Linked DNA regions of Homo sapiens: region 2 is linked to region 1. The links come from fine-mapping of genetic effects on gene expression. A gene starts in region 1. The other region holds a variant in brackets. All regions are shown on one strand. Distances are from middle to middle.

The links. PIP is the estimated chance that this variant, and not a neighbour inherited with it, causes the effect. A credible set is the group of variants that fine-mapping cannot tell apart.
Region 2: its variant is the best candidate, but not a certain one, in a credible set for the expression of POLR3E in whole blood (INTERVAL, PIP 0.61).

Annotation. Positions count from the first base shown.
Region 1 is chr16:22,294,764-22,299,036 of GRCh38, reverse strand. It overlaps POLR3E (RNA polymerase III subunit E), which reads right to left and starts at 1,628. Exons shown (of 21, transcript NM_018119.4): 1 at 1,500-1,628. It overlaps TRL-AAG2-4 (tRNA-Leu (anticodon AAG) 2-4), which reads right to left and starts at 1,897; the gene lies at 1,816-1,897. RefSeq lists silencers at 408-547, 1,558-2,007 and enhancers at 758-897, 1,340-1,884.
Region 2 is chr16:22,392,287-22,396,559 of GRCh38, reverse strand. It overlaps the pseudogene SLC68A2P. Among named protein-coding and RNA genes, the nearest start is that of CDR2-DT, 20 kb to the right of the region's middle. The variant C/G (reference allele first, on the strand shown) is at 2,070.

The sequences.
Region 1 (4,273 bases):
CTGGTCTATTTGCTCAGGTGTTGTTTGTCTTCTGCAATAGAACGTAAGCTCCATGAAGGCTTCTCAGTGCTTCAGTTTCCTCAACTATGAAATGCAGACAATCATACTTTACTTCATCAAAGCTGTTATGGGGAGCATTACTTTAAAAAAAAAATCCAGTGCTGGTTCTCTCAATACCTAGAACAGTGCCTGGCACGAAGTTGACACTCAATATAGTACAAAGAATACTTTATATTTAATCTTCTCATTAGCCCTATCAATAGAGATTTATCATCTTCAATTTGGAAATGACGAGACTGAGGTTCAGATATAAGCAACTCATCCAAGGTGGAATGAGGACAGAAACTTGGGTCTCGCTATGTCAAAGATCCTTATTCTTATTCTTAACCACTATACTGCACGGTTTTCTGATAAACGGCAGTATGGTTAAGTGGGTAAGAGCTTGGACCCGAGAACAAAACTGTGCAGGTTCAAATCCCACCACAGCTGCTTGGCATCTGTGACCCACCTGAGTTGTCTGGGTTTGGTATTCCTCCCTATTTTCATCCCTAAAGTAGGGAAACTAAGTACCGACCTCCAGACCCCTGCGGGGAAGGAGTAAGGACAGGACGCTAATAAACGTAACCTCTGGGAAGGTTTGTTATTACTTGACAACATGTTTTCTGCCAACGTAAGCGGGTAATGACGCTAAGCCACAAGTCAAACGCTGCAAGCAGGAGCGTCACCCGGTTTCTACTGAGCCGTCACCACAACCCTATGAGGTAGGAATTTCTATTATCTCTATTTCACAGATGAGGAAACTGTGGAGATCGCTAAGATCTCTTCTTTCCGCCTCCAAGCCCAAGGAATTCTAAAGCTAACCCAAAGGAACGACCTTGTTTGTTTACTGACACCTCCTCGGACCGAATGGTCAGGGCTGTATCCGGAACACAGAGTTGGCTCGGTAAACACTGAATGGTTGCCTGAATAAATGAATGAGGAATCCCTGGCCTCGCCGGGCAGAGGCTAATCCGGTTCAGCTGCGAAGTGGGGGCTCCGGCAGGCGCAGGTGCCCTCCCTGCCCATCGGGGCGGGCCGCCGATCCCGAGCCTCGCTGTCCAATGGGTTTCTGCTCCCTCGCGGGTGGTCAGGCCCCCCTTCTCACGCCCACCACGCAGTCCCTGCCGCGAGCCGCCACTACACCCGACGCGCGGACAGGTGTTTCTTCCGTAGGAGGCCTCCCAGGCCCGGATAGGGCAGGTCGGCTGGACCCTGAGTCACCGCCGCCAGCGTCGGCCGCGGCCTCCCCAACTCCCAGGTGTCAGGTCAAGGAAGTCAGAGTCCGGGGTCGGCCTGGAGCCGGCTGCCCCTCCTCCCCGCCCGAGTCCCGAGAGGCCTCCAGCTGCTAGGCACAGCGCGGCGCGGGCCTCCTTGGCCTACTCGGGAATCTAGCCCAGGCCCACGTCGTGAGTGCGGTCCGGCTCAAGCCCCAGCTCGGGCACTGCCAAGACGGGACTCACCTCTCCGCGGGGGCCGAGCGCGGACGGCGGCAACGGCCCAGTTACCCGCGGGCTGCAGAGACGGCGGCGGCCCGGCTCTCCTCTCAGGCGGCGGCCATGTTGCTGGTGGAGAAACTCCGGCGGACACGTGGGGGGGAGCGGGCCGGCCCCAGCGTTTCCTCTTACCCACAATGCCCCGCCCCGGTGCACGCGGCTCCGCCCCCTCCGCCGCGCCATTCATGCAGGCCGTGAGCCCCGCCCTGCAGCAGGGGGCGCTGATGGCACGCGCAAAACTGAGCCAGGAGTGTATGCAGCGGGGACAAAAAGACAGCAACCCTGGCAGCGGTGGGATTCGAACCCACGCCCCCGAAGAGACTGGAGCCTTAATCCAGCGCCTTAGACCGCTCGGCCACGCTACCCAGCTGCAATATGTTTATGCCAGAAAGCTACTTAATGCTTTTGCTTTTGCATTTAATCTGGACATTGCGAGGCGTTTTCGCTGAGGTTTTTTTTTTGCTTAACGTGTGTTCAAGGTGATCCCTATAGAATTATTTTAAAAAGCCGTGTTTTGGAAAATAAACACTTGCTCCAGTCTTTAGACCCAGGTTGGTTCCGAATAGGTATTAGAGCAAAACGCATTTTTAGAAACTTTACTCTGAGTTGGATGGTTAACCCGGAGACCCCTGGTTAACCCACAGGTAATCCATACGACCCGGATTGGGTGTCTCCGGGAGAAGAAATTGATCTGATCAGAAACATGCACCAGGGGATCTGACGGCCAAACCCTGGAGCTGGTCTGGGCAGTTGTCTCTGAAAAATTATGTTTAAATTTTTACTTACACAAATAACACGCGAATTATTGCAAAATATTTAAACTTTGCAGATAAGGTACAAATGCTCTTTGACCTTGACTCGCATCCTAGGCCCCTCCGCCGAGGTAACTAACCATTATTATCTGTTTAATATGAACTATGGTTTGAATGTGTCCCCCAAATTTCATGTGTTGGAAATTTAATCCCCAATGTGGCAGTATTGTGTGGTGGGCCCTTTAAGAGGTGATTAGATCATGAGGGTGGAGCCCTTATGAATGGATTAATCTCTTCATGGATTCATGGATTAATGGGTTAATGGATTAATGGGTTATCTTGGGAGGGGGACTGATGGCTTTATAAGAAGAGGGAGAGAGACCTTAGCTAGCAAGGGAGCAGCTCAGCACCCCCTCCATATGATGGCTTGTACTGCCTGGGAACTCTGCAGGTGTCCCCCACCAGCAAGAAGGCCCTCACCAGATGCACACTCTTGACCTTGGACTTCTCAGACTCCATAACTGTAAGAAATAACTTCCTTTTCTTTACAAATTACCCAGTTTCAGGTATTCTGTTATAAGCAACAGAAAATGGACTAAAACACTATATATCTTTCTAGATCTTTTGCTGTGAATTTATATGTTTATATCTATATGGATATATATAGATATAGCCATAGAAGATAGCTTTGTTTTTATTGTGTATGGATTTGAACACAAATATTGTCACATTATTCATATAGATCTGCAATTGGCTGTTATTTTTCACCAGACTGTATTTTAAAATACCTATCCGTGTGGATATGCAAAGATATTAAAAACAAAAATGCACAAAAATTACAAAGAAAAAAATTATCATCCATAGTGCCACCACCTGGCATTAAATTAATGACTTAGTATTGTGGCATTTTTTTCCTTTTCTTTTTTCTTTTCTTTTTTTTTTTTTTTTTTTTTTTTTTTTTTGATGTGGAGTCTCGCTCTTGCTGTCTAGGCTGGAGTGCAGTGGTGCGATCTCCGCTCACTGCAATCTCTGCCTCCTGGGTTCAAGCGTCTCTACTAAAAATACAAAAATTAGCCTGGCGTGGTGGCACATGCCTGTAATCCCAGCTACTCGGGAGGCTGAGGCGGGAGAGTTGCTTGAACCCGGGAGGCGGAGGTTGCAGCGAGCCGAGATCCCACCACTGCACTCTAGCCTGGGCGACAGTGAGAAACTCGGTCTCAAATAAATAAATAAATAAATAAATAAATAAATAAATAAATAAATAAAAAATAGATCACACTATTACAAATAGAAATTATTAGACCATTGCAAATAGAAATAAGTCCCCCTCCCATTCTCCCCTGTCTATAACTGTCATGAATTTGATGTGTATCTTTCCAATAATTTCTTACATTTTTACTATAAAATTTATGAATAATATCTAAAATGGTTATCTGTATGTTTTTCACTTATATAAATGTTAGCACATTGTACTGATATCCTAAAACTTGCTTTTCTCATTTCAACAGTATTATTATTATTATTATTTTAAGAGAGTGTTGCTCTGTCACCCAGGCTAGAGTACAGTGGTGCAATCATAGCTTACTGTAGCCTAGACCTCCCGGGCTCAAGCCATCCTCCCACCTCAGCTTCCCAAGTAGCCAAGATTACAGGCATGAGAGACTGTGCCAGGCCCAACATTATGTTTTTGAGGTCTGTTATGATGCCTATAGATCTAATTCATTCATTCCATGCCATGTACAACTTTTAAGTTGTTACTAAATTTTTGTCATTACACACAATATGGCAGGAAGTATCCTTGCACATGGCTCCTTGTCTTACGTATGGACATTTCTCTAGGGTATACACTAGAAATGAAATTGCTGGTCTATATTTATACTTTCCCTAGTATTATATAATAATAATATTAATAATAGGCTGGTCTCAGTGGCTCACTCCTATAATCCTAGCACTTTGGGAGACTGAGGTGGCAGGATTGCTTGACGCCAG
Region 2 (4,273 bases), 98 kb before region 1:
TCATCCTTTTCTCCTTTATTTATTCAACTCCTCAAAAAGAAAACCAGCCTGAGGGCTGGGTGCGGTGGCTCACGCCTGTAATCCCAGCACTTTGGAAGGCCGAGGCAGGTGGATCACTTGAGGTCAGTAGTTGGGAGACGAGCCTGGCCAACATGGTGAAACCCCATTTCTACTAAAAATACAAAAATTAGCCAGGCATGGTGGCACATGCCCGTAATCCCAGCTACTTGGGAGGTTGAGGCAGGAGAATTGCTTGAATCTGGGAGGCGGAGATTGCAGTGAGCTGAGACCATGCCATCACACTCCAGCCTGGGTGGCAGAGCGAGACTGTCTCAAGAAAAAGAGAGAGAGAGAGAGAGAGAGAGACTGTCTCAAGAAAAAGAGAGAGAGAGAAAGAAAAGAAAGAAAGAAAAGGAAAGAAAAGGTAAGAAAGAAAGAAAAGGAAAGAAAGAAAGAAGAAAGAAAGAAAGAAAGAAGAAAGAAAGAAAGAAAGAGGAAGGGAGAAAGGGAGGGAGGGAGGACGGAGAGAGAAAGAGAAAATGAAAACATAGTGCTCACCCTTCATTATTTTATCCAATAAAGTGTTAAAGAGACTTAGCCAAATGAATAACAAGAACAACAGATTCCAATGAGCTGTCATTATTTTTTTTTTTTGTCTGAGGCAGAGTCTGTCACCCAGGCTGGAGTGCAGTGGCACCGTCTCGGCTAACTGCAACCTCCACCTCCCAGGTTCAAGTAATTCTCTGCCTCAGCCTCCCAACTAGCTGGGATTACTGACACCCACCACCACGCCCGGCTAATTTTTTGTATTTTTAGTAGAGACAGTGTTTCACCATCTTGGCAGGCTGGTCTTGAACTCCTGACCTCATGATCCACCCACCTCAGCCTCCCAAAGTGCTGGGATTACAGGCGTGAGCCACCACGCCTGGCCAAGCTGTCATTTTTTACCACAATAATTTACACGTGTTAATTCTCTAGAAATTAAGAATAAATTTCAAGCAACTTTGGATTTTCTTTTATTTTTTGTAGAGACAGGGTTTCGCTGTGTTGCCCAGGCTGGTCCCAAACTCCTGGCTTCAAGCAATCCTCCTGCCTCAGCCTCCCAAAGTGCTGGAATTACAGGTGTTAGCCATTGGGCCAGACCTGGATTTCCATTTTATAATAATTTTTTATTGAGATCAATAGAAAGTCCTATGTTTTTGTGAGGGCTTAAGAAAAATGACTGTTAAAATCTTTTGGCTATACTTCTCTTAACAACTAGTAACCAAGAGAGACTAAGAGAAAGTATTTACTGATCATATATCTGACAAAAGACATGTGCCTAGAATATACAAATAACTCCTACAACTCAATAATATGAAGACTAATTACTCAATTTAAAAAGACACAAATTATTTTAATAAATAACCAAAAAGATACATGGATGGCAAGTAAGCATATGAAAAGATGCTCAACATCATTAGTAGTCATTAGGAAAATGTAAATCAAAAACACAGTAAGATACTACATACCGGCCAGGCGTGGTGGCTCACGCCTGTAATCCCAGCACTTTGGGAGGCCGAGGCAGGCGGATCACGAGGTCAGGAGATCGAGACCATCCTGGCTAACATGGTGAAACCCCATCTCTAATAAAAATACAAAAAATTAGCCAGGCGTGGTGGCGGGAGCCTGTAGTCTCAGCTACTCGAGAGGCTGAGGCAGGAGAATGGCATGAACCCAGGAGGCGGAGCTTGCAGTGAGCCGAGATTGCGCCATTGCACTCCAGCCTGGGCGACAGAATGAGACTCTGTCTCAAACAAAAAAAGGAAAAAAAAAGTAAAGAGAAAGGTAAACATCTACCTTCCATACAACCCAGCCATTCTACTCCTAGGTATTTACTCAAGAGCAAGGAAAGCATATATCCATACAAAGACACAAAATGCTCATAGCTTTATTTGTAACAGCCAAAAACCAGATCCAACCCAAATGTCCATCAAGAGATGAAAGAAGGAAGTCCTGGCCAGAGCAATCAAGCAAAAGAAAGAAAGAAATTACATCCAAATAGGAAGAGAAGAAGTCAAACTATCTGT[C/G]TTTGGTGACAATATGATTCTATACATAGAAAACCCTAAAGACTCCACCAAAGGACTCCTGGAACTGATAAATGACTTCAGTAAAGTTTCAGGATACAAAATCAATGTACAAAAATCTGTGGCATTTCTTTACATGAATAATGTTCAAGCTGAGAACCAAATCAAGAATGCGATCCTATTTACAGTAGCCACAGAAAAAATTAACATACCTAGGAATTCATCTCACCAAGGAGGTGAAAGATCTCTACAAGGAGAACTATAAAACACTGCTGAAAAAAATCATATATGACACAAATGGAAAAACATTCCATGCTCATGGATTGGAAGAATCAATATTGTTACAATGTCCATACTGCCCACAGCAATCTACAGATTCAATGCTATTCCTATCAAACTACCAACATCATTTTTCACAGAGTTAGAATAAACTATTTGCAATTTCATATGGAACCAAAAAGAGCCCAAATAGCAAAGCAAGCCTAAGCAAAGAGAACAAAGCCAGTGACATTACCTGACTTCAAATCGTACTATAAGGCTACAGTAACCAAAACAGCATGGTACTGGTACAAAAACAGCCACATAGACCAATGGAACAGAACAGAGAACTGAGAAATAAAGCTGTACTCTTGCAGCCATCTGATCTTCAATAAAATCAACAAAAATAAGCAATGGGGAAAGGATTCCTTATTCAATAAATGGTGCTGGGATAGCTGGCTAGCCATATGCAGAAGACTGAAACTGCACCTTTCACCACATATAAAAATTAACTCAAGATGGATTAAAGATTTGAATGTAAGACTTCAAACTATAAGAATCCTAAAAGAAAACCTAGGAAACACCATTCTGGACATCAACCTTGGGAAATAATTTATTGCTAAATCCTTAGAAGCAATTGCAACAAAAACAAAAATTGACAAGTGGGACCTAATTAAACCAAAGAGCTTATGCACAGCAAAAGAAATTATCAACAGAGTAGGCAGACAACCTATAGAATGGGAGAAAATACTTGCAAACTATGCACCTGACAAAGGTCTAATATCCAGAATCTATAAGGAACCTAAGCAATTGACCAAGCAATAAACAAACAACTGCATTAAAAAGTGGGCAAAAGACATGAACAGATACATCTCAAAAAAAGACATAAGCAGCCAATCATGAAAAAATGCTCAACATCACTAATCATCAGAGAACTGCAAATCAAAACCACAATGAGATACCATCTCACACTAATCAGAATGGCTATTGCTAAAAGTAAAAAAAAAAAAACCAACAGACAGATAGACTGCAGAGAAAAGGGAACACTTATACGCTGTTGATGGCAATGTAAATTAGTTCAACCACTGTGGAAAGCAGTTTGGAGATTTCTCAAACTACCTAACACAGAACTACCACTTGACCCAGCAATCCCATTACTGGGTTTATATCCAAAAGGAAATAAATTGCTCTACCAAAAAGACACATACACTCTCCTGTTCATTGTAGCACTATTTACAATAGTGAAGACATGGAATCAGCCTAGGTGCCCACCAACGGTGGACTGGGTAAACAAAATGTGGCACATATACACCATGGACTATCACATAGCCATAAAAAGAATGAAATCATGTCCTTTGCAGCAACATGGATGCAGCTGGAGGCCATTATCCAAAGCAAATTAACACAGGAACAGACAAGCTAATACCACATGTTCTCTCTTATAAGTGGGAGATAAGCATTGGGTACTCATGGCAAAAAGATGGCAACAATAGACACTGGGGAATACTAGAAAGGCAGGGGGCAAGGGTTAAAAAACTAACTATTGGGTGCTATGTTCACTACCTGAGTGACAGGATCAATCATACCCCAAACCTCAACATCACACAATGCGCCCACATAACAAACCTGCACATATATTCCCTGAATCTAAAATAAAAGTTGAAATGATAAAAAACGTGGGCGGAGGGGGAGGAATTATTTAAAAAAAAAAAAAAAAGCAAATTGTGGTATACCCACATAATAGAATACTACTTGGCAATAAAAAGGAATTAAATATGGATACTCACAACATGACCAAAAGAATCCAGACCAAAAAATAGTACATTACTGTATGATTCCACTTATATAAAAACCTATAAAATGTAAACAAATCTATACTGATAGAAAGTAGCTCGACAGTTGCCTGAGAATTAGGGAGGTTAGGGAAGGGTGGAAGGAAGGGATTAACA